Linked DNA regions of Homo sapiens. The protein of the gene in region 1 purifies or fractionates together with the protein of each later gene. This does not show direct contact. Each region holds a gene or a part of one and is shown on either strand. Other genes may lie near its edges.

Region 1 (6,365 bases):
ACGAGGGTGAGAGGCTCCCCGGGGTGGTGCTTGATCCACTTCTCCCTCTTGGCCGTAGAGAACTGTGGGTTGGGGAGGTAGTCCAGGCGGAACCTGCTGCCCCGCTGTGCCTCCTCGGGGTCCAGTAGCTCCTCAGCCACAGCCACCTCGTCTGCGTAGGCCCGCCCATTGATGAAGAAGTCCACTGGCGCTGATGCGTTGCTCAGGGCCCCGGGGGACGGGCAGGTGATGAGGGTGGAGTTGAGAACCTTGCAGAGCTGGTGCAGGAGAGCCAGGGGCCCAGGCCGGGATGCAGGATGGACAGATGGGCATGGAGAAACGGTGGGGAGTGGGGTTTGAGGAGACACAGAGGCAGAGGGAGGAAGAGGGGACAGAGATGCAGTGGGAGGAGGCCTGGTCAGTTAGGGCCCTGGCTGTGCCTGGGCCACCCCCTCCCACCCATCAGGCCCCCGAATGCCTCACCGTGGGCTCCCGGCCAATGTGGTGGACGGCCATGGACACATTCTGCACCATGTGGAAACGCTCACCAGCCACTGTGATGGTCCTGCCGCCACTGCGGGGGACAGCAAAACCTATCAGTGCACCTGCAGCCCCAGAGAGCCTGGGGGAAGGGCGGGGTGCCAGTCTCACCTGACAGGGCTGCGGCGGGGACTGATGGCCGTGATGACCGGGTTCTGCATGTACCAGAAGGTGAGGTTGCCGTGCACGCAGCCCCGACGCTCGAAGCGCACACACACAGGCACCGGAGCCGGCAGGGCCCCCTCAGGCATGGTGCAGGCGATGCTGGTATCTGTGCGCCTGGGGGGAGCAGCAGGTTATCAGCAGGGCCTGCCTTCTGCTGCTCACCCACCGCCAATGCCCCTGAGACCTGGGGCACAAGTCCACGCACTTGGCCTGGGGTTCAAGGCCTCCTTGACTGGTCCCAACTCATCTTCTGCCCAGTTAGTGCCCAGCTGTTTCCTTACACTTCCAAATTCCGCCCCATCCCACCTCCTCCAGGAAGCCTTCCCAGGTCTTCTCTCCCGCCTCCAACCCTGGTGAAGTCTCTCTCCCCAGATCCCTGAAGGCACTGACTTTTCTCCCAATCCTAGCCCCACTGGATGTTCCTACTTCCCGTGGGTATGTCTGCCCTTCCCTTGAGGTCTATGTTGTGCTCCTCTTGGTGTCCCAGCAATGCCCATTAGTGGGGTCTGGTACACAATAAGTGCATAATAAAGACAAAGGTGTTTCGCCAACAGACTCCAACCACACCCCTGCCACTCACCACACCCCTGGGCCAGCCAGAAGATCTGTGTGTGTGCAATCAACACCATTCTCATTACAGCTATCACTTATGGAGCAACTACTGTATACCTGGCACAAAGCCCTTCTTCCAATTACTGGTACTATTCTTACCAGCTGAGGAAACTGAGGCTCAGAGAGGAGAAGGGGCTTGGCTTAGGGGACACAGCCAATGAAGACCCAAGAGAGGCTTGGCTCAAGGATGTCACCTCCAGCCCGCCAGCCCCCAAGCCCATTGATTTCTCTGGGCTGGAAGGGATGGGCCAGGCCCAGAGGCTTACATCAGCTCCGTGCAGGGGTCTGTGTCGTTCACCAGGACCTGGAGCTCGGAGCCTACATGGAGGTCATTCCCATGGATGGTGATCCTGGTGCCCCCGGCCTTGGGGCCCATGGTAGGCTCCAGGGAGTGGACCAGGGGCAGCTGTGGGAGGAAGGCAGGCGTTTGGGCCTCGGGCCAGCCCCCGGGAGTGTGCGTGCTGGGCGGGCCGGACAGTGGGCTGCAGCCCCCCCTTACCACGTAGGAGAAGCGGTCCCGGGACTTGCCCTCCTTAGAGGCGTTCACGGTCACCACACCTGAGAGTGGTCCTGGGGCTGGCCCTGTGACACACACGATCCTGAGGGGAGGTGCTGTGGTCAGCCAGCGGTCCTTGGCCCCCACGGCCACCCTAGAGCCAGGCTCAGGGATCGCCCCATTCCACGCCATGCCACACTTCCAATGCCTTCTATGTATAATTTACCCCATCAGTTTCCCACAGTTCTGCAACTATAAGACACGGGGGTGGGACAAAAGGGTCTCTGATCATGAGAACGTCTGCTGGGCTGGTAGATGACGGCTCTTCCACACGCCTGATGCACGGCCTCCCAAAAGGAAAGCCAGTTCAGTCTCTGCTCACGCGTATTTCCTACGGCCCCTCTGGGCCAGTCACAGATCTCTAAACCATGCCAGTAGCCCCAGCCTTTTTAATTGCAAATGATTTTCCTCAGAGCAAGGCTTAGGTGGAAGAAGGGCTGTGCTAGGGCAGCCTGTGAGGGCTTCCCAGAGGAGTGGGCATCAGAGCCAGAGCTGGAGGGATAAAGCAGATGCCCCAAGCAGAAACGGCAGGATGTGTGGTGGGAATGGCTTCGGCACAGGCCTGGAGGCCACGAAGCAACAGTCTTCCAGAAAGCAGCAGAGTGAGGACAGAGGATGGGGAGGGAGGAGTGAGGAGGACAGAGCAGAGGCTGGCACTGCTGGAGAAGGTAGGTGGGGGCACCGTGGCTACTCACTCCTCCGACACCGTGTATCTGTCAGGCAGTGGCTCACAGGCCACACCACCAATCCACACGCCGTGGGCCACGTCACTGAGCCGCCGGCCCAGGTTCCTTCCTCGGATGGTCAGCAGGGTCCCACCGTCCAACGGGCCACTCAGGGGCTCAATCTGCCAGGTGACCCGAGAGAGGGGCGAATGGGATCTGAGGCTGCAGGCCAGCAGGCTTCTGCCCACAGTCACAGGCACCCAGCAGGGCACAGCCGTGCAGACCCACTGCTTAGAGGAAGGTCTGGAGGCTCAGGTGGGGCTGGGACTGTGGCCACTTGGCAGGTCACTGTGCTGGCAAGGAGGATGTGGGTGTGCATTACTGAGCCCACGTGGGCCTGGGGACGCTACTTAGGGGGTCTCCTGGAGGATGCTGAGGTCAGCTTCCAGGAGCAATGTTTGGCCATGTCATTGGTGGCTTTAGTGATCATGGTATCCCCTGAAACTAACAACATTCAGCCCTCGGTGTCTCCTCCACGCCACACTTCCAATGCCTTCTATAATTTATTCATTTCCTTATTTATTACTGTCCACCTCCCCCACTGAAACATCAGCTCTGTGAGGCAGAGCACTTCCTTTTGTTCACAGGTGATACTGCACCCATGTGTCGGTGTATGTGCCGTTTGGGTCCCCAAGAAGTGGGACCCTCGAGGGCACTGCGCATGCGCCGTGCCGGAGTGCGGGTGCCACGTGCCTCCACTGGGCATGCTTACCGCGTGGATCTCGGGGGCGGGGCAGGTGCCAGCCATGGGCTGCAGAGGCCCCCGCAGGCGGCAGCCATCACTCCACATGCACAGGTGACCCAGGTCTTCGCGGCCCAGGCACTGGGAACAGTCGGGGCTGCCCATGGCACAGTTATAGACCATGACTGGGGAGACACGGGGCAGCTCGGTCAGCCCCGCTCTGCGGTGCATGCCCCAACACCGCTGTGCCCTCCACACACAACAACTGTCAAGAGGTCTGCGCCCCATCATTGTGGTGCCCCACCCAGAGGAAGTCCTGATTCTGGGGGTCAGGATCCCCTGAGGTTCTTAGCCCCTTCCCCAAACCCCTGGGGCCTGTGCTGAGCACAGTGCAGCCCCTGCTTCATTGATTTCCTTCCCCTCACAGAGACTCCAGCTGGGAGCCTCAGGTCAGCCTCACTTTACAGAGAAGAGGCTGACGCTCAGACAGGAGGGACTCGCCTGAGCTCACGAGGCCTGTGGGTGGTAAAGCCAGATCCCACCCAGACCTCAGTGGGTCTGATCAACCCCGGCGGGGCCCTAGGATGCTGGGGATCCCTGAGTAATGTGGACTATGAGTACTTTGGGGCTTCAAACCCTCCAAGTAGCCCAAAGAGGAGGGCAGGGAGGGTTCTCCAGGACCTTGGGTATGCAGGGCCGTTCTGGGACCTTCATGGTGGGAATCTGGAGGGCACCACGTCCACCAGGGATGCCTGAGACTCCCCATGAACAGAGGAGCCCCTGGAGAGTGGACCCAACACAGACAGTCACAGCAACTGCACAGCTGCCACGCGAGGGGAGCTGACCACACCCCAGATGCCACGCTCAAGGTTGGGCGAGCCCTGGCTCATCAGGTCCTTACAAGCTCTGCAGAGGGACTGTGTCCTGTTTCCTATGGGGACGATCAGGCCCAGGAAGGCAGGGGAAACTATGCACGGAGACCCCAAGGCCTGGAGCCTGGCATGGCATGGCAGGGCTGGGATATGAGGCTGTGTGTGTGCTGGAGAACAATGGGGTGGGACATCTGCGGCTTTGGGGCAACCACTGGAATGAGTCGCACAAGGCTGAGCCCCACCCACTGCACTGAGGCCCCGAGGCCATGTGGGGCGGGTGGGGGTGCCCACCTGTCATGGGCTCAGGGCTGTCCAGGAATCGGGCTGGCCGCCCCTTTAGTTGGAGGCTGAGCGGGAACACCTGGCTCTTCCGGGTCGTGTGCAGCTGCAAAAGGGCAGAAAAGAGCATAGGGGGCATGGGCAATGCCTGGGGCTCTGCTGGGGATGGGTGTCATGGAGGCAGATGAAGTTGGGGCTGCTGGGGATGGGGGAACCAGAAGGTAGAGAGAGGCAGGGTGGGGTGAGGGGTACAGCATCTGGACTTAACGCAGGCCCGCCCTCCGCCCATGCTGGAGTCACCCCACTCACCACCACCTGGTCACAGCGTACAACAGACTCATTCACCCACACAGCCTCGAAGATCTCCTCCAGCCCAAAACTACACTCCAGGGCTGCACCCTGTGGGAAACAGGGAGTGGGAGGCGGGTTTGAGGAGAACCAAGCCAGCATGCATTGCCCTCTAACTCCAGCAGGACACCACGGGCTCCTGCTGGGAAAGGTGGGCTTGGTCGAACTGTCAGGCCTTTGCATGGGCTGTCCCGTCCCCCAAAATCCCCTTCCTGGCCATCACGTCCAATGTTTGAGGGAGGCAAGCAGTGCAGGAATGCCAAGAACTTTGGCCTCATGCGCTCAGCACCACTAAAAGCCTCTCCAGCATCCCCAGTGATCTAACCCAGGGGCCTTGTATTCAGCTCCTAAGGCTCCACTCCCAGCGGGGTTCCCCTGCTCTTCGAGCCTTCCCACCTCCCATCCTGCCCTACCAGGCCCTGCTCAGACGTGCCCCAACGCCCAACACGGCCAGACTCTCCTGCCCCGGCCTTTGCCTGAGCCCTCCCCTCGCCTGAACACCTGTCTTCCTTTCTACCACCCAGCAAAGCTCAACACAGCCTTCAGGATCCAGCTTAAAAGCCCCCTGTTCTGAAGCCTTCCCAGATGCTGCCCTCAAATCAAAGGGGTGTGCCTCACTTGATCCTCATTCATTCCCTCAGCAGCAACTATTCAGGTGTCTGCTGGGGCACTACGAAGCTCCTAGAGCTGCCCCCATCCCTGTGTGCCAGGCATCACCCTTAGCCTCTTGCCTGGCTGCTTACCTGTCCCCTCGCCAACCGGGGACGGTCAGGGCTCGGCCGCTCTGACACCACCCCCAAGGGCAGCAGAAAGCAGCTGGAAGAGCCCTGGCCTGGGTTCAAACCCCACCTCTGCATGTCCCAGCTATGTGACCTCATGCAAGTTGACCCCTTCTCTGAGGCTTGGTTTTCCTACCTGGACAATGGGAATAGGGTTGCTGGGAAAACTGGAGATTGTGTACCTCAAGGGGCCGCACACGGTAGGGGCCTAATATGTGCTTGCTATCATTAGTATGCAGGAGGTATCCAATAATGTTTGTGTCATGAGGCTCAGTTCCCCAGGCTCATCTGGCCTTCTCAGGAGCAGCACCAATACATATTTGCTGAGTAAACAGACTCAGGTTTTGTGTATTACGCCAAGCACCCAGCCAGCTGCGTGGCAGAGCTTCCTGTTTATGTCCCTGTGGCTGGCAGATGTGACACCCTGAGGAGAATGCAGGTCAACCTCCCTGCTTCTGGGGTCCCAGCCCGGAAGCTAACACAGGAAAGTGGCTGCTGACGGGGCCAAAAGCCCGTTTTGTCCCCTGCCATGCTGAGCTGGAGATGGGTCCCTCCTCTTAGTCCTCAGCCACCTCAGAACAGCACACCCGGCCCGTCCCAGAGCTCCCCAGGGTGTAGGCTCAGCAAACAGGCCCCCACCGCTGGGCCTGACTTCAGTGTTCTAGGAGCAGGCCCTGGGGAGCAGGAGGGCAGGCGCCCCTGCAGCTCGGTCAGAGTGGAGGCTGCCCCACCACACAGCTGGGAAGAATCGGCAGGACTCAAGTCAGGCTCACACCTCCCCATCCCAGGCGCCCACGGCCCAGGGGCAGAGCCATCCTGCCCACCCAC
Region 2 (6,365 bases), on another chromosome or scaffold:
TTTCCAAGACACACTGGACAGAAGCCAAATCCCTGGGCCTTAAGAAGTCGAGCAGAACGGCTGCAAACCCTGCAATGGAAGGCGCACACACACCATCAGCAGAAAGCATCACAATTCCAAGAAAAATCAAAACCAAGCAAAAACAAAAGAGAAAAAGATAGAACCAGTACTCCACAGAAGAGAAATTAAAAAAATATAAAGGCAACATTAAAACCCAAACACACTTTTAGGTTTTTACTTAATTTTTATTATCCAATTTCATTTTCTGTCCCACTTGGGACTCTCGTTCTGGGTATTCCTCTCAGACTGCACTGAGAAAGGGTAAACTCTGAGAATGAGGCCAAGAGCTTCCAGATGTTTAAATACAAGGAGGCCAAAGTAAATGCTACTCTTACCTGTGGCGATGCAAATGACCACTGCAGCTCAGGGAGATTAAGAAGTTGATGAAAGCAACCTGGTAGACTTTCTGCCAAGTATTCTTTGAAGGCAAAGGAAAGCACTTTTTCCCTTAAGTGTTAAAGATCCAGGAGAGAGTCACTGGGAGCAAGTGGATAATTTAAATAGGTTTAAATATGATTCTGCACCATAGGAGGGTTGTGGGGTAGGGTAACCTGCCTCCTGTGATTGCTGTATATGAAAAACAGTGCTACACCAAGTTCCTTGGCCATGGTGCCTCAACTGCATTCTGCACCAGGATGAAGGTGGGGCTTTTATTTTTGTGGCCAAGCGCTGCCCAAAGTCCAAGAGAGATGAACATTTAGGAGAAGTTCAAATGTGTTTACCTGCCACTGATGTCTATTTAAAAGCAGTGGATAGGAGACCCTTACCCCAGCCATCATGCATATATAAAGAACATGCTATGGCCAGAGAGATACCTAAAAACTGGGCACACTTCTCTTCTTGCCTTACATACTCAATGAGCTTTGGGGAAAGTACTACCAGGAGGTCATTCTTAGATAGAACACCTGATGTCCCCATAGAGCAATGTCTTTTGGGACGCTGAGATCATAAAACAGTCCAATTAGAGTTGGATCCAGGGTGTTTTAAAAAAAAAAAAAAAAAAGCAGCAGCAGCAGCAACAACCTCCTGGCTCTCCAAAACAGCTAACTTGGGTTAACTGACTGATGGGGAAGTCTGAAGAGAGTCTAGCCAGGATTTGGATTTGATTCAACCACATGCAGACAATTCTAAGTAAACTGGGGAATGCTATGTATTCTCGGGATTGGTAGGTAGGTACCCCAATGCCTCATCTTTTTCTAGCCCCTTGGCATGGCCATTCTAGCTATGAGTCAGGCTCTTGGAAGTATAAGTGCAAATGCCCAGCCCAGTCCATACCTATAAACTTCCACAGACCTTTGTGGCCATGTAGGTAATTCTGCTTTTATAAGGAAAGGAGCAAGGGGGCAGGAGAAGGAGGCGTGCAGGGTAAAAATATTGTTAAAAAAAAAATCACTGGGTTAATGTTCCCCATTTTCACATAGACAAGGTTTTCTTTTCCTCTTTCCAGAAGCAGGTTCTTTGATTCAACAGTGCCAACTGCAGCAGCCTCTCCTACCACTGCCCTACAAAGGACTCTTTTTTTACCCATAGGATCTTCAAGTGGCTACAAAGAACAGACACTAATTTGCTATTTTCCATCTAAGTATATAGACTCAAGGCCCATGTCTTACTACTTTATGTTATTACCAAATTCCTCATCAAAGTAAGATTTTACTATTCTTACTTTCTCTAGATCAATCAGCTCTTTAAGCTGGAACTGGCTATAGATCTCTCATTGTGTCCTCAAAGAGAAGGTGAAAAACCCAGAGGATCTTTCCAAAAGTGAATGTCCCCTCAATTATAACCAGGTTTGATGTGGGGCCAGAACTCTTCTTGGCCAGGAACGTTGGTTCTGTGGTGGCTTCTCCCTCTCTCTGCTTCTCAACATAAGGTAGCAAGTCACTTTCAAGAAAGAGAGAGAAGTGGCCACAAAAGTCCCGGTGTCATATGTCTCACGCATACCTGCTACAAGGAGAGGATTCTGAGCCAGCTGGTCAGCTCACCCCATCACTATGAGAAACCAGGTTGGAAGTTAGTTTCCTCTTTTTTCAAGACACAAAGAAAAGGCCAGTGTGAGTGGTCCCCACACTATGTCTGGAGTTCCCATGCTCTGGGATAAGGTACACTGTGCCAACAGCTACTCATCAGAGTCAAACCGTGAACAGGAATCAACTGCAACTCTGACTTCCAAACAGTGTGATGGGCTAAAAAAATAATAATTTGCAGCTTAGTGTCACCTGGCTCCTAACAGCAAAACATAAGAAGGAAGTCCCAGGCTGCTGCTTTTAAAGAGGAGACTAATTAGCAGGCCCAGTGAGGAGTACACTGCTGCAGTAGAGGGCTGTTATCAGAGAAGCACATGCCACGGTTTTAGAAAAGAAAAAGAGCTGGAACTATGAAAATATCCAAGCTTACATGCCACCCAACAACCAAAACACACCACCACACTGCACCCATGGCAACATTCCCATCACAACAAGATGACACCAAGTCACAGTTAAAGGAAGAGGCTGGGCAGACACAAACTTAAAACCATAGAGGTGAAGGCAGCTACTTAGAGAGCTTCAAACAGAAGAACAGAAGAAATAAAAAGTAGTTAGACTGGGGAGAGAAACAAAAATAGAAAGGCACCAGAGAAGAAATCAGCAAAAGTATAGCAGGAAACCTACTACAAAATCAAAGGGGAGGGAAAACCATTTCAACACTACCCTCCTTGGACTGCCTGGTTTTATGAGTTTTAATTTAAGCTTCCCAGTTCTCCCTCCCCAACTCTTCCCAACACAGATGATTTTGGACAGTCACGGATTTCCTCAAGTTCTTTGTTCCTGAGAAGAAAGACACAGAGAAGGGTTGGGGGATAAGGGAGGCAGAGAGAACGGCAAAGAAAAGAAGAAAAAAAGTTGCCACAGATGTTTTCATACACTACAACCAGAAGGGTCATGGGATTGAAAAAAAAACGAAGACAAGGGGTGGGGTGAGTGATCATACTGGGGAAGAGGGAAAGGATGCAGAAGGGAAGGGTCATTGGGCCACCTCTAATGACTACAGTACTACTACTGTAGGGTGCTGGACTCACTCTGAAGGACGCTTATGGTGGCCTGGGCTCGAATCCATGTTATGGAGGGGTTTTGCCTCAAGTCATTCCTCTTGGGGTCGTTGCTGGCCCTGCACTCGTAAGTCCCAGAGTCCTCCAAGGTGAGCCGGGTTATTCTCAGCACACTCACGCCGTTTGACCCGTAGGCGGTGTTTACGGTGACACGGCGCTTCCGAGCACCGTCCCACAGCTGTCTGAAAGACTCTGCCCGGTTGACTTCTGCGTACCACCACTGGATCTCTGGCGTGGGGCTCCCGACCACGTCACAGTACAGCTCAAAGGCGTCCCCCGTGAGCTTAGTTTCTGACATGGGCGACTTGACAAACCCAGCTAGAGGGAGGGGGAGCAGGAATGCAGTGACAGGCCAATCAGAAAAAAAAAAAAGAATCAACAGGTGTTAATAGTAATTTAAAGAAAAGAAAAGAAAAAAGCAAATGAGTTGCAAAGAACAAAAAAGGATTCATTTTTAAACTATAAAGAGACAGTACAGCAATTCATACAAGCTTTTAGAAGAAGAACCACACCCTGGGAAGCTTATGAAGCAAAGGCAGGCTAATTACAAGCTGGGGCAGCCCAGGTGCTGGCCAGGCAGAAGCAAGCCCACTGGAAAGCATTTTAGCAATGGGCCCAGCTGGTAGGAATGAGAAAGCCTCAGGTCTTGGGAAGAGCCTCTTTCCTTAGAACACAAACCATTTATTACCTTTTTAAACTCAGGCAAGTGATGAAAGATAACCAGAAGAGGCAGTAGTTTTATATGCCAAATCAGGATCTCTCTTTTGGATGGGCAAACGCTTTGTTAGAAATGCAGTGTCTTTTGCAAGCCTCAACAAGAAGTATTAAATGACCTACTGGTGCCTTCTCTTGGGATTCAGAGTTCAAATTTCAACTGAAAGAGTAGCAAATTTCTCTCTCACACAGGATTCTATCCTGGGTTCGATTAGACTTTCTCCACCTCCTATTCTTCCCTGGGCCTATGGCAAACAAACAACCCAGTTGTTTAGCGTTAGGCAGCCTCTTCCTGAATGCAGACCCTCAGGAGAACAAGACAGTCTGTACTTCACACCACAGTGAGATATTAATACTTTGTGGGTCAGCTCAGAAGTGGGACCAACAATACCAGCAACCCAACTCACTGCCAGCTAATGGAGGGACTGTGCCCTCCATAACCCCATAGATCCATTACCTAGAAAAATCTGAAAAGCTATGGTATTTGACAGGCTCCATACAGTTGAATTGCCTGGCTTCTAGAAGCCAGCTCAGAAGAATGAGAAATGTACCCTGATGAATTAAACTAAACACTAGGGTGAAAGCCAGGCCTCAACCAACACTCTTAGGAACTGCCCAGGAACTAAAGTTGATGCCTACCTCTAATTGCCCATAATTTGCTTGAGGTTACACTTCCATAAGACAAGGTGGAAATGGCAGAAAGAGTTAAAAAAAAAAAAAATCCAGGCTTAGTTTAAAAACTTGGAGTTAGGTCCATAGGAAACAAAATCAGAGTGCAAGCATACTCTCTCTTACCCTTCCACCCCACCTAGGGTTCATTCAGCATTTCTACTGATTCAGACAGTATCCGAAGGTATAAAGAGAGACACTAAAAGAGGGCATTCTGATTGGCTTGGAAACGTCCCCTGGGAGGCCTGCTGCATAAGCCAAGCCAGCCCCTGTGCAGTAAGCAGGGAGTGAGGTCAGGATCTGCCAACATCAAATTAAGAACATTCCAGAGGAAAGGATGAAATAAATGGAACTGTTTTCCTACAGTCCAGAAGCCAAGGATGTTAACAGGGCTAGCTGAAAATGGAGGTTACTAAGTGGAAAAATTCCTGTTTACATCCATAGCAGTATTTGCCTTTGGTGATAACCCCACACCATGGACTAAGAACATTAATGGAGGTACTATACTTACTCAAGTAGAGGCCAAGACCTCCAAATTCATACTAGTCTTTCAATTCCTGACATTTTCAGACTCTGGGGAGCACAGGAATGCAGTGATTAACAGGCTTAGACTAAACGTTCTGCCTTTAATATGCCATTTTAAACTACCTCTTCAGATCCAGCATGCATTCCTTGTAAGGAAATATCTACCAGAGGCCCCAAGAAGCCCAACAGATGTCATTCTCAGATGCAGGAGAAGCTTTAGAATTACAGAAAGGAGCCCCCAAGCCCCTGCATGAAGAGCTGAGCTCACTGCCCAATAAAGTGGTATCCAAGGAGCCATGTCTCGGTCTCACAAACTACCACCTGCCCACCTGTCAAAGTCAATGCCAGCTAATATAAACAAAGAAGTAAAGGAGGGCCGGGCGTGATGGTTCACACCTGTAATTCCAGCACTTTGGGAGGCTGAGGCGGGAGGATCATGAGGTCAGGAGTTCAAGACCAGCCTGGCCAGTATGGTGAAACCCCGTCTCTACTATAAACACAAAAATTAGTTGGGCATGGTGGTGCTCACCTGTAGTCCCAGGTACTCGGGAGGCTGAGACAGAAGAATCACTTGAACCCAGGAGGCGGAGGTTGCAGTGAGCCAAGATCGTGCCACTGTACTCTGCCCTGGGCGACAGAGCGAGACTCCGTCAAAAAAAAAAAAAGAAAGAAAGAAAGAAAGAAAAGGAAGGGAGGGAGGGAGGGGAAGTAAAGGAAGTTGGTTTTATTTATTTTACTACTGGCTCAATCACCAGAGAAAACTGGATATCAGTAAATCCCTGAAATGCAGTAAAAGTATTATTCTGTTTTAATCATATTCTTGACCATAAGTGGTAATCACAAATGGTCTTATCACATTATCTGTGAACTTGGGGAGTTACAGCCTCTCAAATGCGGTAATTATGTACTCGATTATGCCCTAGAACTGTTAGTGGATTTCTTTTGTACTTTTTCCCTTCTTCTGTATTGTACTTCAAAGCAGCCTTAGACTTAAGCCTGTTTATCAATCTGTTGACAATGCTAATGTAAAAAAGATGCCTGAAAGTATCCTTTCACCAAGAATCCATCCAATTCCACTGTAACCCCAAGTCCTAATAACACACAAGTCACAGGTAGCTGAGAAACAGTCTGACTATGATTCCCACTGCACACAACTGGGCGAGTCACTCAGCCAGATCATGCCACCCTGGGCAAGACTTCCTGCTAAGAGTAAGGAATGCTGATCTGAGTCAGTTCAATTTTCTACCTGTATCAAGGAAAATGGGACCAAGACAAAAATGTTCTTTGCATTAGTAAATTATAGGATGTATAT
Region 3 (6,365 bases), on another chromosome or scaffold:
CATTTGAATTGAGTGTGGGAGAATAGTGACCATGATCCCCCACAACTGTTCTCCCCACCCCTATTTCTAATTGCATTGGGGACTTTCCACATGAATGTCTCACTGTCATCTCAAATGTACCACAAGCAGACTAAGACAGTCCTTTCCCCTGGATACTGCATCTTTTCACTGAACCCTGTCTTTTAATTGGTGGCATCACCAATCATCCACTTCCTGCCTAGTCATCTCGTCATTTCCGTTTTGCTGCCAAATCCTGTTGTTTTTATTAAGTACAAGAAAGCAACAGAACTCTTGTTGCTACCTTCCTTTCTTCTGGATTTATCCTGATCCGAGCGCTCTGGCCAGGGTGCTACATCAGCTCTTGGTTGGCCTCCCAGACCCCACTTTGAATCTCCACTACACCAACTGCTACTTAAATTTTCAGAAAATGTTGTTTTAAGCATGTCATTCTCATCCTCAAAAATCTCCACTGCTAAGTGAAAGAAGCCCAACAAAAAAAGGACAAATATGGTCTGATTCCATGGATAGGAGTAGCCTATCACTAGATCAGTCAGATTCGTAGAGACAGAAAGCAAAATGGTGGTTGCCAGGGCTTGGGGGAAATGGAGATTGGGAGAGTTAGTGTTTCATGGGTGCAGAGTTTCAGTCTGAGACAATTATAAAATTCTGGAAATAGTGGTGATGCTTGCACAGCAATGTGACTGTACTTAATGCGACAGAATTGTACACTTAAAAATGTACAATGATAAAATTAAAATGGTTAAAAGTGGTTGAAAATTGTTAAAGCGGTAAATTTTATGTTATGTATATTTTACCCCGACAATAGAAAAGAGATATCTTTTGAAAATGTACCATGGTTTTCCATTATTGATAGGAAGATATCAAAACTCGATCTGGCATTCAAGACCCTCATTTTGACTTCATCCCATTTGCCTAATTTGATTTTCTATTACTGACAATACATCTCAGTTAAGCAATTCTCTTCTCATACAGTCTAGACGTCATCCTCATCATTGCCTTTGCTCAAAACCCAGCTTAAGACTCATGAAGAGAACTTTTCAAGCTACTCTAGCTTTTATTCTGAGCTCTCCCTTCTCAGAAATATGATGTAAGTAGCACAGAGCTCAGCATTCCACTGCTCTCTAAGGCTTTAAGATTGTTAGTCATGTACCCACAGCTAGATTATAAGATCTTCAAAGGCAATGAACAGCATCATAGACCTTTTTATGTCTTCTAAAGCAGCCCAAGGAGCTTCTGAGCACAAGGAGAGTATCAGTTGTTGATGAATTCAACGCTGGCTTAATGACAAAATGTCCAACACTTCAAGTATTTTCCTTTAGAAACTGTACATCCTAATCAAGAACATGTGCAAGAATGATAACCTATTTTTCTTTGAAGCAACTCAATTCTGCGTTATATAATAAAAATTTAGCCTAAAAATATAACTACCCCTAAGTGAGAGGCAAACATCTAATGCAATTAAACTAAGTCCACATTATCAGCTGAACCTTAAGAATTCATTACTCAGATACTTTCCACATGAGTTCTATGGTCCAGATCATGTCGTTTCTTTACTCAGACATTCAGTGCCTTCTTGTCTAGAAATTACGCACGTCATTTTCAGTCAGGCATGCAGGCCTTCCATGTCATGTCCTTGCAAGGCCTCTCCCCATTCACTCCTTTAACCAGTGCCAATTGGCATGAAGAACTTCCTTACTTCTGGGAGTTTGGGAGCTTTCTTTCTGTTCCCTCCACAAGGAATTCCCTGTCATGTTACCCTTTTCCATTATCTGAACTGCTTAAAATCCTGACCTGTTTTCAAATGCCACATCGTTTACTCAGTTTTTCTGTTCTCTGCAACTGGACACAGTTTTCCATTTCTGGGCCTCTTCACACCATTTTATCTGCATTTCCCTTCTTTCTTTCTTTCTTTTTTTTTTTTTTTGAGAAGGAGTCTCGCTCTGTCTCCCAGGCTGGAGTGCAGTGGGGCGATCTTGGCTCACTGCAAGCTCCACCTCCCGGGTTCACGCCATTCTCCTGCCTCAGCCTCCCGAGTAGCTAGGACTCCAGGCGCCTGCCACCACGCCCGGCTTATTTTTTGTATTTTTAGTAGAGAGGGGTTTCACAGTGTTAGCCAGGATGGTCTCGATCTCCTGACCTCGTGATGCCTGCCTCGGCCTCCCAAAGTGCTGGGATTACAGGTGTGAGCCACGGCGCCTGGCCCCTCTACACCCCGGCCTTTTTTTTAATTTTTATTTTTAGAGACAGGGTCTCACTCTGTCACCCAGGCTGGAGTGGAGTGGTGTGATCATGGCTCACTGCAGCCTTGAACTCTTGGCCTCAAGCAATCCTCCCACCTCAGTCTCCTGAGTAGCTAGGACTACATGTGGATGCTACCATGATTGGCAATTTTTTTTTTTTTGGTCTCGCTATGTTGCCCAGGCTGCTCTCAAACTACTGGGGTCAAGAGATCTTACCATTTTGGCCTCCCAAAGTGCTGGGGTCACAGGCTTGAGCCACCATATCCAGCCCTCAAATGCTGATGAGCACATTTAGTTCTTTGGAATGCTGCTTTCTGCCTCCCCAGATTTTAACTTCTTTGAGGACACGAACTAAGTCATATTTTTCTGTTTTATATGACTCTTCATGCCCTGTTTTATACATAGTATTTGCTCAACAAATATTTGTTGAATGAATCAACTTAATACAATGAAAGGCAGCTGTCATTTTCTCAATTGCCCTTTCCTGTAACTTAACCACAGTATTTGCTCCAGGCTGGGATCTGGAAACCAAGAATATACTCAGTCGGGATTAAAAAAAGATTTACAAAAACAATTTTACTAAGGGACTATGAAACTGTAGTGTTAAAAATAGAGTGCCATTTTTTGGCCACGGTGTTCATACCTGCCTGATTCCAAACAAGCTTTTAGAAAGGCAATGTTTAGCTGGTAATGGGGACCAGATGTTACCATTTGGAGGCAAACATAATTAACTTGAATACTGTAAGGAGAGCAGAACCGTCACCAGATTAATGCCCTTTCTCTAATGCAGACTCGGCTGGGGCACAGTTTCTGTATTCATAGACTTAGTGATGCCCTGTCCCCATTTAGCCAACATATCCATGGTGCAAAGTGAGACTGTTATTCCTTCCATATAGCTGCCTCATTAAAAAAAAAAAAATGAAGAGGCAACTTGATTTACCTTTGACTGAAAACTATGTGACTCACTTTTAACAATAATTTGCAGAAAAATTACATTAACAATTAATTCAAGGTTTGAATGAGATGCTAGCGTTTAACTCTGTCCCTTCATAGCAGGCTGGTACAGGTCAGCCCGGTGCAGGTCAAACCCTTTGGAAATAGTGTTGCCAGATTTAGCAAATAAACAACAAAACAAGAAACAAGATGCCCAGTGAAATTAGAATTCAGAGAAATAATGAATAATTTTTTAGTACACATATGTCTCAAATATTGCATGGGACATACTTATTCTGAAAAATTATGTCTTGTTTGTCTGCGTCAAATTTAACTGGACATTTTGTATTTCACTTGGCAGCCTTGTTTGGAAAGCTTAAGACCACTTCAGGATGGAAGGGAGAAATGAGTTTTGTAATGGAGGATTGAGGTCGTTATTTTCAGTGATATTATTTTACAGTAAATCTCTGTACTCAGCTTTAATGGAAAAACTGAGGTATACTGGTAAATCAAATATCCAGTTAACCAATTTCCAACGAATGAGAAAGTAATAACTGCATTCGATGGGAGACCCTGAATGAGCATAATTTAATCTCTCCTTGATGACTCAGAAAGTACCTCTGGATATTATGGTGTCTGAGATCATCACTGTGAATTCTGATTGACTTAGGAGCACATGAATATGTGTTGAAGCGCTGGGTAACAGACTTCTGGTTAATAACAGAAGATAGCAGAGTTCAGAGTGTGTTAAGCAGCCATTGCCCAACGTGATTTCCATCTCTGCCAAAATGATGAAGCCTACTTTGTCAAAATAATGAAAATGCCCTTCATCAATCACCTATAAAGCAGAATGGTTTGTTCCAATCTTATTTTCTTTATATCTCTATATGGTGACAAACTCTGAATTTTCCAGGATTACTATATTTCTTTTTTCTTTCTTTTTTTTTTTTTTGAGATGGAATCTTGCTCTGTTGCCCAGGCTGGAGTGCAGTGGCCAGTGGCACAATCTCGGCTCACTGCAAGCTCTGCCTCCTGGGTTCACGCCATTCTCCTGCCTCAGCCTTCTGAGTAGCTGGGACTACAAGTGCATGCCACCACACCTGGGTAATTTTTTGTATTTTTAGTAGAGATGGGGTTTCACTGTGTTAGCCAGGATGGTCTCAATCTCCTGACCTCGTGATCCACCTGCCTCGGCCTCCCAAAGTGCTGGGATTACAGGAGTGAGCCACTGCGCCCAGTCCAGGATTACTATATTTCTAAAAAATAATTTCTGAATCAAAAAATTAGGGTAAAACTTGGGGCTTTAGTGGCTTTGGAAGCCAAGTGATGTGTTCAAGCAGTAACCTTTCATTAGGTAGGCTTAAACAAAATCCAGATTGAATTGTGACTACTCAGCAGGGTGAAAATTTGAGGTCCAGCCGCTTGTTTCTCAGAAGGCGTGCATAAAACTGCACTTCCTTCATTCAAAAGTAACCACCAAGCATTTGTTATGTTCCAGGCATACAGGACACAACAGAAAATGAGGCAAACAGGTCCCCTGCTCTCCTGGACCATCTAGTCCAGCAGGAATACTGTAGTCCTCCTTTCATTAATCTCTACTCAAGGGGACCTTTGATTTTCATTTCAAGAAAATGAAAATTATCTGCTTCTGATAATCAAGAAGAAAAACTTGAAATTACTGTCTTATTAGAGGCTCTGCTTGCTGGGGCATATGCTAGGTTCAATATATTGAGTGCCATGTACTATTTTAGTCTAACGGGTACCATTTAGTGAGCACTTAGTTTAAGCCAGGGGTGTTCCAAATTTCCTCTCATTGACTCCTCATTATAGTTGCATTAAGGTGATCCTCACAGACCAGAAAACGGAGATCAGAGTGAGTCTCAATGTCTTATCCATGGTCCGTCATGCATACACTAAGTGGACAGTCCACAGTCAAGCCTGGATATGTCTGCCTGCCTTCTGTCCATGTGACTATCGTAACGTGTTAGCCTCTCCAAAAACCTGCTTCTGGCAATTATTTGGAGACTAGAGACATTTTACTAGAGAGAAAATATTTAAAAGTATAGTGGAGACCATGATTAAGAGACTAGCACTAGGAACTGAAAGGAAGCACCTTATTTGAAAAATAGCTACTTAATTATGTATGAAAATATTAGGATATGCTATTTTAGACATCTAAGTTTACATAACTAGATCATTTAACTATTTTTAAAAATTGAACAAATTATTTACCTTCTTTGCTCACATTCCTAGCATCACCTCTCAGGGAAATCCTTGTGAAAATTAAAAAGGACAGTTTAGGTATAAAAAAAATTGTATTCAACTAAAAGGATGTGACATAAATCTCTAAGAGCCTGGAAATTCAGAATTTTGACTAACATGTTTGGAGTCTTTATGAAGTTTACCTCATTTTTTTTAAATACAATGACATGAGATAAGGTTGAAGAAATGGGCCAGAAATTTCCACCCAAACCTCAAATGGCCTTGTTTCTACAAATTTATGAATAACAGCACAAATCTGTAATGCTCTGAAAATGACCTAGAACTTTCTGTCATCTAACTGCTGATCAAAAATAAAGCCAAGGTTATATCTAACTTTTCAATGTCCTTTCTTCTTTCAAACCCTTCTCCACCCAATTCCTGCCTCTAAGGCCTTGAACTTTCTAAATCTTAGGTCCTAAAATAATAAACAAGTCTGTCTGTGGGATGGAAATAAATAAACTTTTCATTAAAAAATCAGATGTTGGTTTTTACTTTCCAAGCTGAACTCTACTATAAACAAGTATAGTTTTTCCTGTTCATTAGCTCTTCTCAAAATTGCTTGTAATTTCATGGAATATTGCCAAAGTGATTTTTTTTCCTTCCAAAGTCGGTATCATTCTCCTCTAAAAATAATTAAACTAAAGAGGATAAACAGAAAAATGGAATAAAAAATTAAATACCCCAAATACATATATAACATAATATTAAAGGTAGTTCAAAGACTTTTAGACATTGCTTGCTTTTAATTACTTTTTAGTGAGTGGGTCAACTGATTCTGTCTTTGAACTTCCAAGCTTACTATAAAGATCACATTGTACAGGTTTTTTGTTGGTGGTGGTTGTTTCAATGAAAGTTTGGCAATGTATTTACTAAAATGGAAAGGAATTCTAATATGACTGCTATATACTG
Region 4 (6,365 bases), on another chromosome or scaffold:
AATCCTTGCAATCTTCTGACCGAGCTGCATCTCTCAAGACTGCCAGGTCAAAAGGAGCCAGAAATTCTCCAAGATGTGAGCCTTGTCTCTTTCAAATCTTGTGGAGGGAAGGAGGAGGGCACAGAATTCTATCTTTGACAGTGCTTACTCTGGGCAAAGATATTTCTCAAACATTGTGAATCCAGTGGCATAGGTTATTTTGATGTGGTCTCCACTTTTTCATTGCACTGACCATATTACACTACTGAAATGTAAGCAGAGATATGCAAGTGTGTTTCCCAAAGCTGATGAAATTCTTGCCCTGTAAAAGCTGCTTCTGGGAAAAAAGTCTAAGTCATCTTCACCTGTCTCAAATACTCTGGGATGTAAAAAGGCATATACGTAAATACATAAAATGTCTGTTTATCTTCACTGAAAAGAAAAATATTTGGTACATCCAACCAAACTATGATGCAGCCCTTACATTCCTTAAATTTATATCATAGGGATCTCATTAGTTAAGTTAGGTTTTCACAGAAAAGATAAGATAGTGTAAGATTTTTGAAACACAAAAGAATGCATAACTCATTATAAATGCAGAATATGTGTGACATTTATTTTATACTATATGGATGTTAAGTCAGCCTTCATAATATCAATCCCAAACTGCACATCCTAGAAAGATACAGCATATCATCCAAGATCTCAGACCAAACAAGCAAAGGAAAGAAACATTGTCCTGAAAAGAGTCTGAAGCAATGTCTTTATTTGCACATGAGTATGGGAATTGTTTTTTATGAAATACTAGTAAGAAAAAAAGGTTCCTATGTGCAAAAAACTCCAGAGCCCTTGGCAAAAAATGCTTTCCTATGCATTCTTGGGAAAATCTCCTACTCTGCTGTAGATAACTTATCTCTCCACAGAAATTTCTCCATAATTCACCCCCAAATCTTCCTCGATTTCAAGAATTTTAGGTTTTCTTCTCAAACATAGGAAGACTTTTTATAAGTCTCAATGGCCAACAGTGAACACAGATTTACCTTGGAAACAAAGATCAGACCCAAACTAACTGGGCAAAAAAGAGGTAACACGGCCCAAGCTCCAGAATCAATGAGTCTTATTTCTCAGAGAAAGCCTCAGGAGAGAAGAATTGTGTGTATTCCTCTTGGCAAACAGCCTTTAGAGCAAGCCCTTTGTTGTACTCAATTCTTCTTTGAGCCTATTGTCTTTTATAACTGGTAAAGAGACGTGGGAAATGAATTTTATTTCACCACTTACCTTGAACATAGACATAAATGACCGAGGCCAAGTCAGTTTCCCGGTAGAAGCACTTGTAGGCTCCAGTGTCATTTCCGATCACTTTTGGAATTGTGAGTGTCTTACAGAAGAGGCCATCGCTGCACTCAGTCACCTCCACCCTTTGCTCACTGCCACTCTGATTATTGGGCCAAAGCCAGTCCAAGTCCCTCTGTCCCCTGAAAAATTAATTTCAGGGAGGTATTAATATGAAGTGCCAGACTGTGAGGCTATTTCTAAGAAAAGAGAAAATTTGGTTTTGAAACTTAAATAAACTCTTCAACAGACACAGTCAGTCTTCTACCGGCCAGGCATGGTGGCTCATGCCTATAATCCCAGCACTTTGGGAGGCCAAGGCGGATGGATCACCTGAGGCCAGGAGTTCGAGACCAGGCTGGGCAACATGGTAAAACCCTGTCTCTACTAAAAATACAAAAATGAGCCAGGTGTGGTGGCGCATGCCTGTAATCCCAGCTACTCAGGAGGCTGAGGCATGAGAATTGCTTGAACCCGGGAGGTGGAGGTTGCAGTGAGCCAAAATCACACCACTGCACTTCAGCCTGGGCAAGAGGGCAACCCTGCCTCAAAAAAAAAAAAACAAAGTCTTCTACCAACAAGTCAGATTGACATATGATGAAAAGTTATAAACTCAGCTTCAGAAGTCACTTATAAAGATTCCTGAGTTTTCCATTAATTAATGCATTCTTTCTTTCAACAAATATCTATTAAGCATCTACTATGTGCCAAACTTGTTAAGGACTAGAGAAAGAGCAGTGAACAAATCAGACAAAAATCAATGCCTTTATGGAACCTCAGTCTAACTGGAGAAAACAGGCAATTAAAAAGTAAGGAAAGTTTATTGTATAAAAGATAGTGTTTAGTACTATGGAGAAAAATATAGAAGATACAAAGAAAAGAGTAAAGAATTTTGCAGGAGGTGGTCTTGATAAAGCTAGCCATAGGAACATCATGAAGAGCAGTATTACAGGAGCAAAAACAGCACATGGAAAGGCCCTGGAGCAGGTGCATATCTGGAGTATTAAGGGAACAGCCAGGAAACCAGAGCAGCCAGGTAAGAGTGAGCAAAGGGGAGTAAGAAGTGAGGTTAGGAAGGAAGGAGGTGCAAGTAAGAGTCCCTCAGGACCTTGTAAGGACCTCGCATTAAAACATAGATGGCTTGTACTGCAGCATTTCTCTACAAGGCCCCAAGGAAGATAAGAAGATAGTCAACATCAAGAAGAATGTAACATTATTGGCCCTTCATTCAAAGAACTTAAAATTTCCAGGAAGTTGCAGCTAAATCAATGAAGTTACTTTTAACACACTCCATGGTTTTTTTCAGAACATAAGAAATGTTTATGCAGAGTTTTAAAAAGGGAGCATGGGATCCTTGGGGATTTCAAATAACCTTGTTATCGAGGGTCGGTAAAAGGAAAATCTAATGGGAAATGTGTCTTAAACAAGTAAAGCTAGAGAAACAGCACCTGCTACTGTGTTTTTTCCCAAGGGCTGGGTATTGGTAAGGGGCTAGGGTATTCTTTATACTGCAGTCTAAAATAGATGTATGTCATTCGGTTTAATGCTTAGTATTCAACAAGTATGAAGCAATGGCAATAACCTACCCAAGGTCCTTTGTGGACCCCCAGCACTCTTCCAGGAGGGTAACATCACCTCCACTTGTCACAGTCTCTACCAAAAACACACAGGTCCTAAGAAGGCTCCATGCCTTTCGTGTGTGATCACTATGTTAAACCCAAGGGTCTTCTATCTTTCGTCCTGGGGTAAGGGTTGAAAGGCAAAATTTAAAGGCCTCTTCTTCTTGACAAAGAAGTCTACTTCTCCAGTTATCAAAAATCAATAGCATGACTTCTTGCTAGCAAGTGGGGAAAGATGCATTCCAGAATATCAAGGCAGGGCCCGAAGTCCATTATTTATGTAGATCATGCGCTCAGTAATATTACCCACTAAATATTAAATTGCTATTAAATATTACTGCCTAAGTAATTATAGTAATAAATTTCTTATAAAGCAAAGTTTTTGGAAAGGGATAATAAGTGTTCAAGAATCATACCAAGCATAATAAATATAGTCCCAAATTTTTTCAACTCTATTCCTTAAATGTATGCCCTCAACTTCATTTATTCATTCATATTTATTGAGCGTATGTCTACTATACGCCAGGTGGCTGTACTGGTTATTGGAATGTGGGTGTGGGTGTGTATTTGTGTGCGTGTGTGTGTGTGTGTGTGTATGCATGTTGGCAGAGAATAGTATAAAAACACCAGCAAAATTGTACAGAATTTTTGAGAGAAAATTCTTCTCATTTTCCATTATTACATCAGTTCTTAGAAACCTCACCACTTATGAACAATTACTACAAGCTCTATTATAATTCTGCTCTACTGGAAATTATTTCCACTCAATAAACAATCAGTTACTTAACACAAGAAATCTAGATCTAGAATGAATCCTTACCTGCAAGTAATTTGAAGAGTTGTATTAGCCTTAATTGTAAGTATGTCTTTTTGTATGCTGAGCCTGGGCAGATCAAGAGAAACACTAGGCAAACCTAGAAACAAATTAAATAAATGAATGTAGTTGCCACTGAGTTAGACCTAATAGGAAACACCTTCCATAAACAATGCATACTCTATACTTTAAAAGGCCTCTTCAGCAATTCATTGTATAAAACTGGGAATTTACTTTTCACCATTCTCAGTAAAAGTTCACAAGCTGTGTCATAACAGGAAGAATGGGCAGATGGTCATAAACCAACACAACAGTTCTGCAATTCATGGAGCTAGGGTGGAGTTCCTGTTTTCCTGCATTGCCAACTTCAAGGTCTTACAAAAGGATACGGGACATTGAAACCAAATGAACCTTCATCTGATGATCTCACTCCCTTGGGAAAGGACCCACTGACATTTCTTATAGAACATAGGATGTACACATTTGACTAAATTGCTGATTAACGAATCCCACTTAGACGGATTTTTATATAGTTCATCTACGTACCCTGAAGGGAGTGAGAGAATCTATGACCTTGTCTCATTTTCCTTTATCAATTTTCTAGTGCGCTTCCCCTGGTAACCAAACTGCCACAGCTGAAATAATGGCTCATAAAGACTGTACATTAAAAGCAAGGGAGAGAAACTGAGGAAGAGAAAACATTCCCCAATTCCACACATACATGCATATTAATATACTTTTATGTATGTGTGGAATTTTCCCAATTTTACACATATGTGCAAATTAATATACTTTTCTGTCTACTGTAATTCATTAGCATTACCCTTTTTTTAAAAAGTATATGAATATTTTCGTGAAAAATTTTCCCAGTTTCACACATACATGCAAACTAATGTACTTTTCTCTCTATTGTAATTCATTAGCATTACCCTTTTTTAAAAACGTATATAAATTTTTTTAAGTGCAATGCTAATGAATTACAATTGGGAGATCTGAACTTATTCATCAAAGCCCTGAACTCATCCTGACATCAAGCTTCAGACATAAGAAACTTGTCTTTACCTATAAGGGATAAGAACCAGAAAAGTACCATGGCATAGATTCCTCACCATGGGTCACTCTACAGCAAGATAACTGAATTCTCTGTCAACTAAATGTGAAGAGCTATGAGGTGTTGAAAAAGCATGAGAGAAAGAAAAATTGTCCACTATGCTAGGGTCTTAATAAATATCAAGACCTAGAAAATACCAGCTTTAAAAAAGTAATTGATGTTGGGCAGGCTCCCAAGCTTTCTAAGTCATATCAACTAAGAAAAAATGACTCCCTAGGCCTAAACTGGCATTGACCTTGCTGGGCAAATAAGAGAGTATGAACAAATAGGACGAAGTATGAGACGGAATAAATAGAGAGAGTATAAGTAAATACCCAGTGCAAACATCCAGTGCATTGAATCTGAGGATCCCAATATGAACAAATGCAGGCAAAATGAATAAGTGACTGCACATGTTCTCACACACCACACAGATGTGCAAAATAAGTTACTGACATAACTGGTCAATATCATGGTTTTTAAGTCAATAATATGGTTTTTAAAAAACTGGAAACTAAGTTATATCAATATATCTCAGAAATTAACTGGCATTGGTACTGACTTATGTTTAGAACAGTTTTGTTCTTAAGACTTTAGACTCTGTCAGAATATCCCTGGGTCTACAAATCTGCATTTTAACAAGCATTTCAAATTATCCTACCACAGATGGTCTATGGGCCACTCTTGGACAGTTGCTGGTCTGGGTGGTCATGTTTAATTAATTTGCACAGTACTTTGTGCGTGGAACGGGGGTTACATTTATGTTTTAAATAGAGAATGGGGTCTCGCTATGTTGCCCAGGCACTTCTTGAACTCCTGGACTCAAGCGATCCTCCTGCCTCTGCTTCCCTAAGTGCTGGGATTACAGGAATGAGCCACTGCACCCAGCCTGCACAGTACTTTTTAATATGAAAGAAATAACTGCCCCCAAAACAGGCAAACAAAAAACCAAAATGTTTAAAAGCAAAATGAAACCTGGAGTCCCACTTTGTCTAAGAAAAGGAAAATGAAAACAATTCATTTGGATAACACAGATTTCAAACTTGACTGGGGAACACTAGGTTGAGAAAGATGCTGAAAACATGATGTACAATTCACACTGCCATCCAAATGAGAAAAAAACCATTATTTGGGCACATTCTTGTGAGAAAACAAATGGCAGTAAAAATGATTCTCAATAAACTGTGCCCACTCGGCTACCAAAATCAGAAACTCTTGAAGGTCTCTCATAATTTATTGCCACAGATCACATTCTAGACACACTTTCCTGTGTAACAAATATTTTAAAAAAGAAAAGGTATGTCCTTCATTCATAGGAAGCTGAGACTATGCCATACTATTCTAGAGACACGTTTACAACAAAAATCTATTCAACAAGGCTCTCAATAACTTCAAATTCATATTTGTAGACCAACATAGTTTTTTGTTTTTTGTTTTTGCTCCATTAAATGTCATTCGTTTTCATTGGCAAGCTTGAGCTGGACTCTTCAGAAAGTTCTAAAGAAATAACTGTAAGAGGTACACATGCTAC
Region 5 (6,365 bases), on another chromosome or scaffold:
TAGAACCCTCTCGAATGGGATTAGTTCTCATAAAAGGTACCCCAGAGAGCTCATTTGCCATGTGAGGTTAGAGTGAGAAGACCATAATCTATGAGGCAGTGGACCCTCACCATACCCCAAATCTGCCGGGGCCTTGATCTTGGACTTCCTAGCCTCCAGAACTGTAAGAAATAAATTTCTGTTGTTTATAAGCCACCCAGTCTATGCTATTTTGTGACAGCAGCCTGAATGGACTAAGACAGTGGGAAACAGGGAAGGCAGGTCTCTTCTAAGGGTCAGCCTCTTTTCTGCCGAGACAGCTACCACACAGAACTTGGTATGACGAGTACCAAAGAACATCCACATGTTTCAAGAGAAGCTGGAAATCTGGACCAATACGTGAAGTTTCCAGATTTTAAAGGTATAAATCATTCATGAGACAAACATGTGACCACTGGCCTACAGAGTGAGGCAAAATGTGAGACTAAACAACAAAATGCAAACAAAATCATTTCCAAAGAAATTATTTTCTCTATTCATCCAAGTAACACTTACTGACCATCTATTTTGAATAAGACATTGCATTTGGCAGTAAGAAAAGACACAAAACTAAATACGACAGGACATCTACCTTCAAAGAGAGCTTTCATACTAGATTAAAATACCAAATTACGTCATATGGGTTGAAAATCCCCGCAGGGCTGAGGCCAGAAGGGAATTACTGAGTAATTCAATTATGGAGATATGAATGCTCTTGTCTACTTTGATCAGCACTCGGGGAAAGACAAGAGATTGTGGAACTGGAATTACTGATGGCCCAAACTCCTATTTTTAACACTGGACTCACAGGAAAGCCAAAAGGACACAGTAAATCAAAGACACACCAAGCAAAATCCTGGTTGTTTGAAAACATTAACAAGATAGCTTCCAAACTGGCCTTACAGGAATATAAAACAGGGATATTATGTATTTTTAAAAATATTCTAAAAAAATAATTAAATGAAAACTAGATCAACAGTTCTCAAAGTGTGATCTCAGGACCCCTGGGGAGCCCGAAGACCTTCTTAGGAGGCGCCCACAAGGTCAAAACTATTTTAATACTAAGGTATCATTTGCGTTTTTAATTCTATTATTTCTCTGAGTGTAGAGTGGAGTCTTCCAGAGGTTACGTGATATATAATGATGTCATATTGGAATATGTGCTTGTGTAGTCTTCTGTTTTAAACATTTCTCAAAAATACATATCAGTTTCAATTTCTAATATTGTAACTATCAATAGGTATGGAAACATAAGTTCTTTGGGGTCCTCAATAATTTTTAAGAATATGAGGGGCCCAGGAGTTTAAATTGGATTATAAAATCTGCAAGGGTAGAGACTGCCTCTTGTTTAGTGTTATATCCATAGCTCTTAGCACACTGCCTTGCAAATGGTACACACTCAGTAAATATTTGTCAAATGAAAGAATGACTGCCAAAGCATGTACCCAAAAGTGCATTTAGATATAGAAAGCAAACACCTAAAGTGGTCTTTATTTTTCCTTGGTTGTTTTTTCCAGTTACCAGCTTGGATTAAAAATGGTCCCTTCCTTAGTGTATAGTGTATAGATAGTGCATATCTTGATGATATGGCCAGGAATGTCTAGTAACTTGGCCAACATCCTATGTTTTCATCAATGAGCTTATAATTCCACCTCCTGATTCTTCCTGGGAAATAAGCAAATGTCTGGCAGAACAGATGGCCCCTCTGCTGTGGCCTGACAGAATGAAATCTTGGATTTATTTAACAATAAAGCAAAGTAGTTTCCACAGGCAGGAATCTTCCCCTCCTCACCAAATAATATTTCCTTTAATGTAAACTTGCAGATTAATAGTAATTATAAGTAGTAATCTCCTCAGTCAGAATTACCATCTTAAGGAATGAAGACATGGTCTAAAATAATCACTATACAAATATAAACACCTTTTTTAAAAATGCATATTCCCAAAATTGCAGATTACGATCCCACAGCAACCTGCCTCCAGTAATGGATTTTATGATAAGCACTTTAACCTGAGTTCTGTTCCTAATGAGTCTGATTCAGCAAGTCTGGGATGGGGTCTGGTATTTTCTAAATCTTTGTAAGTGATTTAGATGCATCTCCTAGAGTCTAGGGGCTATGCTGACAACTGTTAGCCTACTATATTGTCTTAATCATTAATAAGGAATGCACTCATAGTCAACATGAATTAGTAAGACACTAAAATAAACTTAATATGATTTTGATATCACAAGATCGTGTTTCTAAAAGCCAGGAAAGAATTTGGATAATTTTGCTTAGGAGTTAGAGAATCTTGCAAGGAAATTAACGACACTGCCTCCGTTTACAGTGCTATAGTTTCTTCCTGTGCTGAGCCAATCACATTGCTCCGTTATAAACTTGGAAAAGAGAAACTAGGAGATGAAGCATGTCTATGAGAGGTCAACAGCTGGAAAGTCACACTGAGGCGGGGCTGAGCAAGCCCGGATGAGTACAGAGCCAGGCTGAGTAAACAGAGGAAGCCTGTTGGTGGAGAAAGCAGAGGAAAAAGTGGGAGGCAGAGTGTGCCTGCTTCCTGCTGACTTTCCACTTTCGGTTGTCCTCTCAGGAGGCCTTACTGTGCCGTGGTTCTTGCCCTTTGATTTCTATGAGCTTCCCCTTCCAGATTTACAGAAACAAAAAAAAGAATCCTCTCTTGCCAGAGCTAGTTTGAGTAGGCCTCAACTCCTTAAGAGAGCCAAGAAGCGGGATACATTGTGGTCTGTAAGGACAATGTAGCATGAGAGGTGAGGGATGGCCATAGAATTTATTGTCCAAAGCAGAAATCTTTTGGAGGAAAGGGGGTGTTAGTGATTACACCAGCACAACAGGTACACAGAAACCATGTAGGACTATTCCAGGCAAATGGGATGTATGGTCATCCTTGAGATGGGAAAAGTGGGTTCAGGATCAGAAGGCTAGCTGGCACGCTCTCTCCTTCCCTCTCCATTTGACTTTAGATAAGTCACTTCTATTCCAAGAGCCTCAATTTCCTTGACCGTAAGATAACAGATTTAAGATATCTTTACAGGTTTTTTTCTGATCAAGAAAAATCTCAGACTAAGATAAGTCTTCTTTGAATAGAGGCAACTCAGGAGATGAGGTAGATATGCAAGAAGGAGCCTTTTAAAATGATATATAGCTGAATGCCTTTACATACACATCAATAAAGATGTTTTGCTGATTTGACTTTAAAAAACAAGATCCCATAGTCACCAATCAAAGCAATCTGGTTATCAGTGATTACATTTTACTTCTTTTTTTATTTTTATTTTTATTTTTTTTGAGACAGAGTCTTGCTCTGTCGCCCAGGCTGGAGTTCAAGGGAGCCATCTTGGCTCACTGCAACCTCCGCCTCCCGGATTCAAGCGATTCTCCTGCCTCAGCCTCCCGAGTAGCTGGGACTACAGGCACCTGCCACCATGCCTAGCTAATTTCTGTATTTTTAGTAGAGACAGGGTTTCACCATATTGGCCAGGCTGGTCTCGAACTCCCGACCTTGTGATCCACCCGATTCAGCCTCCCAAAGTGTTAGGATAACAGGCGTGAGCCACCACGCCTGGCCTATATTTTACTTCTTGAGGAATCGGTAGAACAGCTCCAGAGTTTCTATGGCTCCCAAAAGAAACCAGCTGGTACTGACTTGCCCAGAGCCTCAGGTCCAGATGAAGGGGAAGTGTATTTGTCCTGTTCATTGCATCTCTGAGACCTAATGCTACAGTCCTGCCTTGACCTGTGAAGAGGAAGTCAAAGGTGTAAACAGTCTCCCACTGGTTCCCTTGCCATCCCATCCCTTGTTGGCCAGCCCTGACTGTGGCCAGTTCTGCATCCCTATTACTGGGAGACAGTCAACCTGCCAGCACGTCTGCAGAGATTAGGAGCGCAAACTTAATATTCTGAACTGCATAGCTGCTCTTAAAGGTCATGGGATCTCAGAAGTTTGGAGCTAAGAGGAACCATAGCTTGTATAATAAGTTTCAATTCACAGATGACAAATATAGCTAAAGACATAACAACTGTTAACGTTCAGGCATTGTGCGAGGCATTGTGCTGGGTGCTTTATAGATATCATATTATTTCATTCTTGTGACAACTCTGAGTTAAGTATTCTTATCCTTATTGTTCCTATTTTCAAAATGAGGATCCTTAGGATTTGAGGGATTAAATAACTTGCCACTGTGCTTGTTCAGCTTAGTCCAAGAAATCCTTAGGGACAGAAAAAAAATGTTTGATTCAGTTCTGCTGATTCTCAGGACACTCTTCTTTCTATTAAAATGATCACAGGCGAGTGAAGAGGCATTTAATATGTATCTCAGGCACTGTGCTAGGTGTCAAGGCAGTTCACTGGGATACCAGATGAAATGTAACGTAAACTCCTGCCTTTCCAGGCCTAAGGGAGGAAAAGGAACTGCTGGGTCTCTGCAAAGCTCTCTCTTCATGAAGGCCCAAACGCTTGTAAGGAAATGCCTTATTAATGCTCACAATATCCCCTAGGAAGAGGGTGTGGGAAAAAGAGAAGTACTATTATGCCTCTCTTGCAAATGAGAAAATTGAAGCAGAAACAATTACAGGCCTTGCCCAATACGAGGCAGTCACCACTGAGGCCAAAAATGAAACAAAATTGTCTTGGTTCCTTCCACGATATTCACTGGCCAAAATTAAAAGTCTCTCTTCAGTTACCTCTGGTCACTGCAGGGTTCAAGGACAATTATCATTTGAGACAACTTTTTGGATAGGAATTCTCTTACTAAGCTTCCCACACCTACTCATTTGAATTTCATCCCTTTTCCCTCTTCCCTTTTTGACATAGACAAGTCGGGGCATAGACAATCTTCAAATGAAAAAACAAAGAACTGGAAATATCAGAGTAGATTATATTATAACTACATTAGAATCAAGTTATGAATGAATTCTCCCATAGTAATACTAGTGGCAATAAAGATGACTGCCACATATTGATTACCTATTCTGTGCCTGATACTATGCTAAGTGCTTTATACTTGGTCCTACAATAATACACATGCAGAGACAAATCCAGGTTTTGTGGGTCCTGAAGCTTATACAATTTGAAGGGTCCTTCTTAAGAAAAAAGAAAATTTGGGATATAGAATGAGGTACAGGGCTTCGCAAGGGTCTGTGCAAGTGAGAGACCCAAAGCTTAACTTTGCGAGTTTCATGGTAAATGCATCACTGTGCCCAAGTTAGCTAACAGCTCATATCCCCAGTTTTACAAGCAATGAAATTGAGGACCAAGTAAGTTATTTGACGTAAGTCATAAAGCTTATACTGGCAAGGATAGGATTTGAACATATGGAATCTGACTCCAAATCTCACGTATTTTCTTTGTGTGGCTTCTAATAAAAATAAAGTTGCTATCACCTATTAAGCACTAACTATATCCCAGAAAGATCACACCTTAAGGTTATAAGAATTATTTGACAAAGCAGATGTGATCGTTAGTCCTTATTATCCCTATTTACAGATGGGGAAAACATGAATCAAGTAAGATTAAACAGCCCACGGTCACCGAGCTGGGACATAGTGGAAGCTAGGTTTCATGCCCAGGAGTGTAACATCCTCAATCTTTCCCACTGTCCCATGCTACCTACCACCCTACAGGTAATCCAGGAAAAAGCAGAATAGCGATGTGTGACTTACCTCTAATGACAACAGTATTTCCACACCTGCCCACTGAAACTAGCCCTGTCCTTTAGTTTCATACAATACACCGTGCAGTCCTCCTTAGCTGGGATTGAGCAGCTCTGAAAGTCCACTTCCCTGTACTATTACTTATCAGAACAGAGTCCATTCCTCATGGAGAAAAACACTTGGAAATATCAACACAAACTCAGGCCCCAGCCAAGTTGCCTTACAGCCACCCCCTCACCCAGAGAAATGGAGACACACAGAGAATCTAAGGGCTGGCTATATGGGAACCACGGGGAAGATCACTCATCCTATAGGGCTCCTTGAAACAGCCTTTCAAGGCCATATAAGAAAACTCACATATTTACTATAATTGGATTGCTTTACTCTAGTCACCCAAAGCAAGAGTTTACATCCTCAAACACAGCTCACCATGGATTTGGACATGGACAGGAGTGGAGAAAGGATTCAGTTTCTTTTTTCCTTGAACATGATTGCTCAAAGGAAACTGACCCTCGAGACGCTCAGACAGTGGGCCTTGTCTTCCCTTGGCAATGTGAACTTTAAAAATTACATTATGCTTTGCCATGGTGCTTTTTGAAAAACTGCCTTTAACTGCCAGATTTCAGGTACTCACTTAATTACTTTTGGAAACTCAGTTAAAGGAAGATATCCATTGCCACC

The links.
Region 2: the proteins of PLXND1 (region 1) and NPTN purify together in Homo sapiens (co-immunoprecipitation; one large-scale study listed by IntAct). This does not show direct contact.
Region 3: the proteins of PLXND1 (region 1) and NRP1 purify together in Homo sapiens (affinity purification with western blotting; one study listed by BioGRID). This does not show direct contact.
Region 4: the proteins of PLXND1 (region 1) and KDR purify together in Homo sapiens (affinity purification with western blotting, with the first as the bait; one study listed by BioGRID). This does not show direct contact.
Region 5: the proteins of PLXND1 (region 1) and SCARB2 purify together in Homo sapiens (co-immunoprecipitation; one large-scale study listed by IntAct). This does not show direct contact.

What each region holds. Positions count from the first base shown.
Region 1 is NC_000003.12:129,571,047-129,577,411, forward strand, and holds part of PLXND1 (plexin-D1 precursor), read right to left. Parts: intron 4,810-6,365; coding exon 4,720-4,809; intron 4,517-4,719; coding exon 4,423-4,516; intron 3,445-4,422; coding exon 3,290-3,444; intron 2,700-3,289; coding exon 2,548-2,699; intron 2,140-2,547; coding exon of another isoform or gene 2,019-2,139; intron 1,896-2,018; coding exon 1,796-1,895; intron 1,703-1,795; coding exon 1,563-1,702; intron 799-1,562; coding exon 631-798; intron 554-630; coding exon 463-553; intron 258-462; coding exon 1-257. UniProt on the Homo sapiens protein: Cell surface receptor for SEMA4A and for class 3 semaphorins, such as SEMA3A, SEMA3C and SEMA3E. Plays an important role in cell-cell signaling, and in regulating the migration of a wide spectrum of cell types.
Region 2 is NC_000015.10:73,593,907-73,600,271, forward strand, and holds part of NPTN (neuroplastin isoform b precursor), read right to left. Parts: intron 3,464-6,365; coding exon 3,116-3,463; intron 1-3,115. UniProt on the Homo sapiens protein: Probable homophilic and heterophilic cell adhesion molecule involved in long term potentiation at hippocampal excitatory synapses through activation of p38MAPK. May also regulate neurite outgrowth by activating the FGFR1 signaling pathway.
Region 3 is NC_000010.11:33,214,211-33,220,575, forward strand, and holds part of NRP1 (neuropilin-1 isoform a precursor), read right to left. Parts: intron 1-6,365. UniProt on the Homo sapiens protein: Cell-surface receptor involved in the development of the cardiovascular system, in angiogenesis, in the formation of certain neuronal circuits and in organogenesis outside the nervous system. Mediates the chemorepulsant activity of semaphorins.
Region 4 is NC_000004.12:55,117,347-55,123,711, forward strand, and holds part of KDR (vascular endothelial growth factor receptor 2 precursor), read right to left. Parts: intron 3,845-6,365; coding exon 3,751-3,844; intron 1,455-3,750; coding exon 1,258-1,454; intron 1-1,257. UniProt on the Homo sapiens protein: Tyrosine-protein kinase that acts as a cell-surface receptor for VEGFA, VEGFC and VEGFD. Plays an essential role in the regulation of angiogenesis, vascular development, vascular permeability, and embryonic hematopoiesis.
Region 5 is NC_000004.12:76,206,067-76,212,431, forward strand, and holds part of SCARB2 (lysosome membrane protein 2), read right to left. Parts: intron 1-6,365.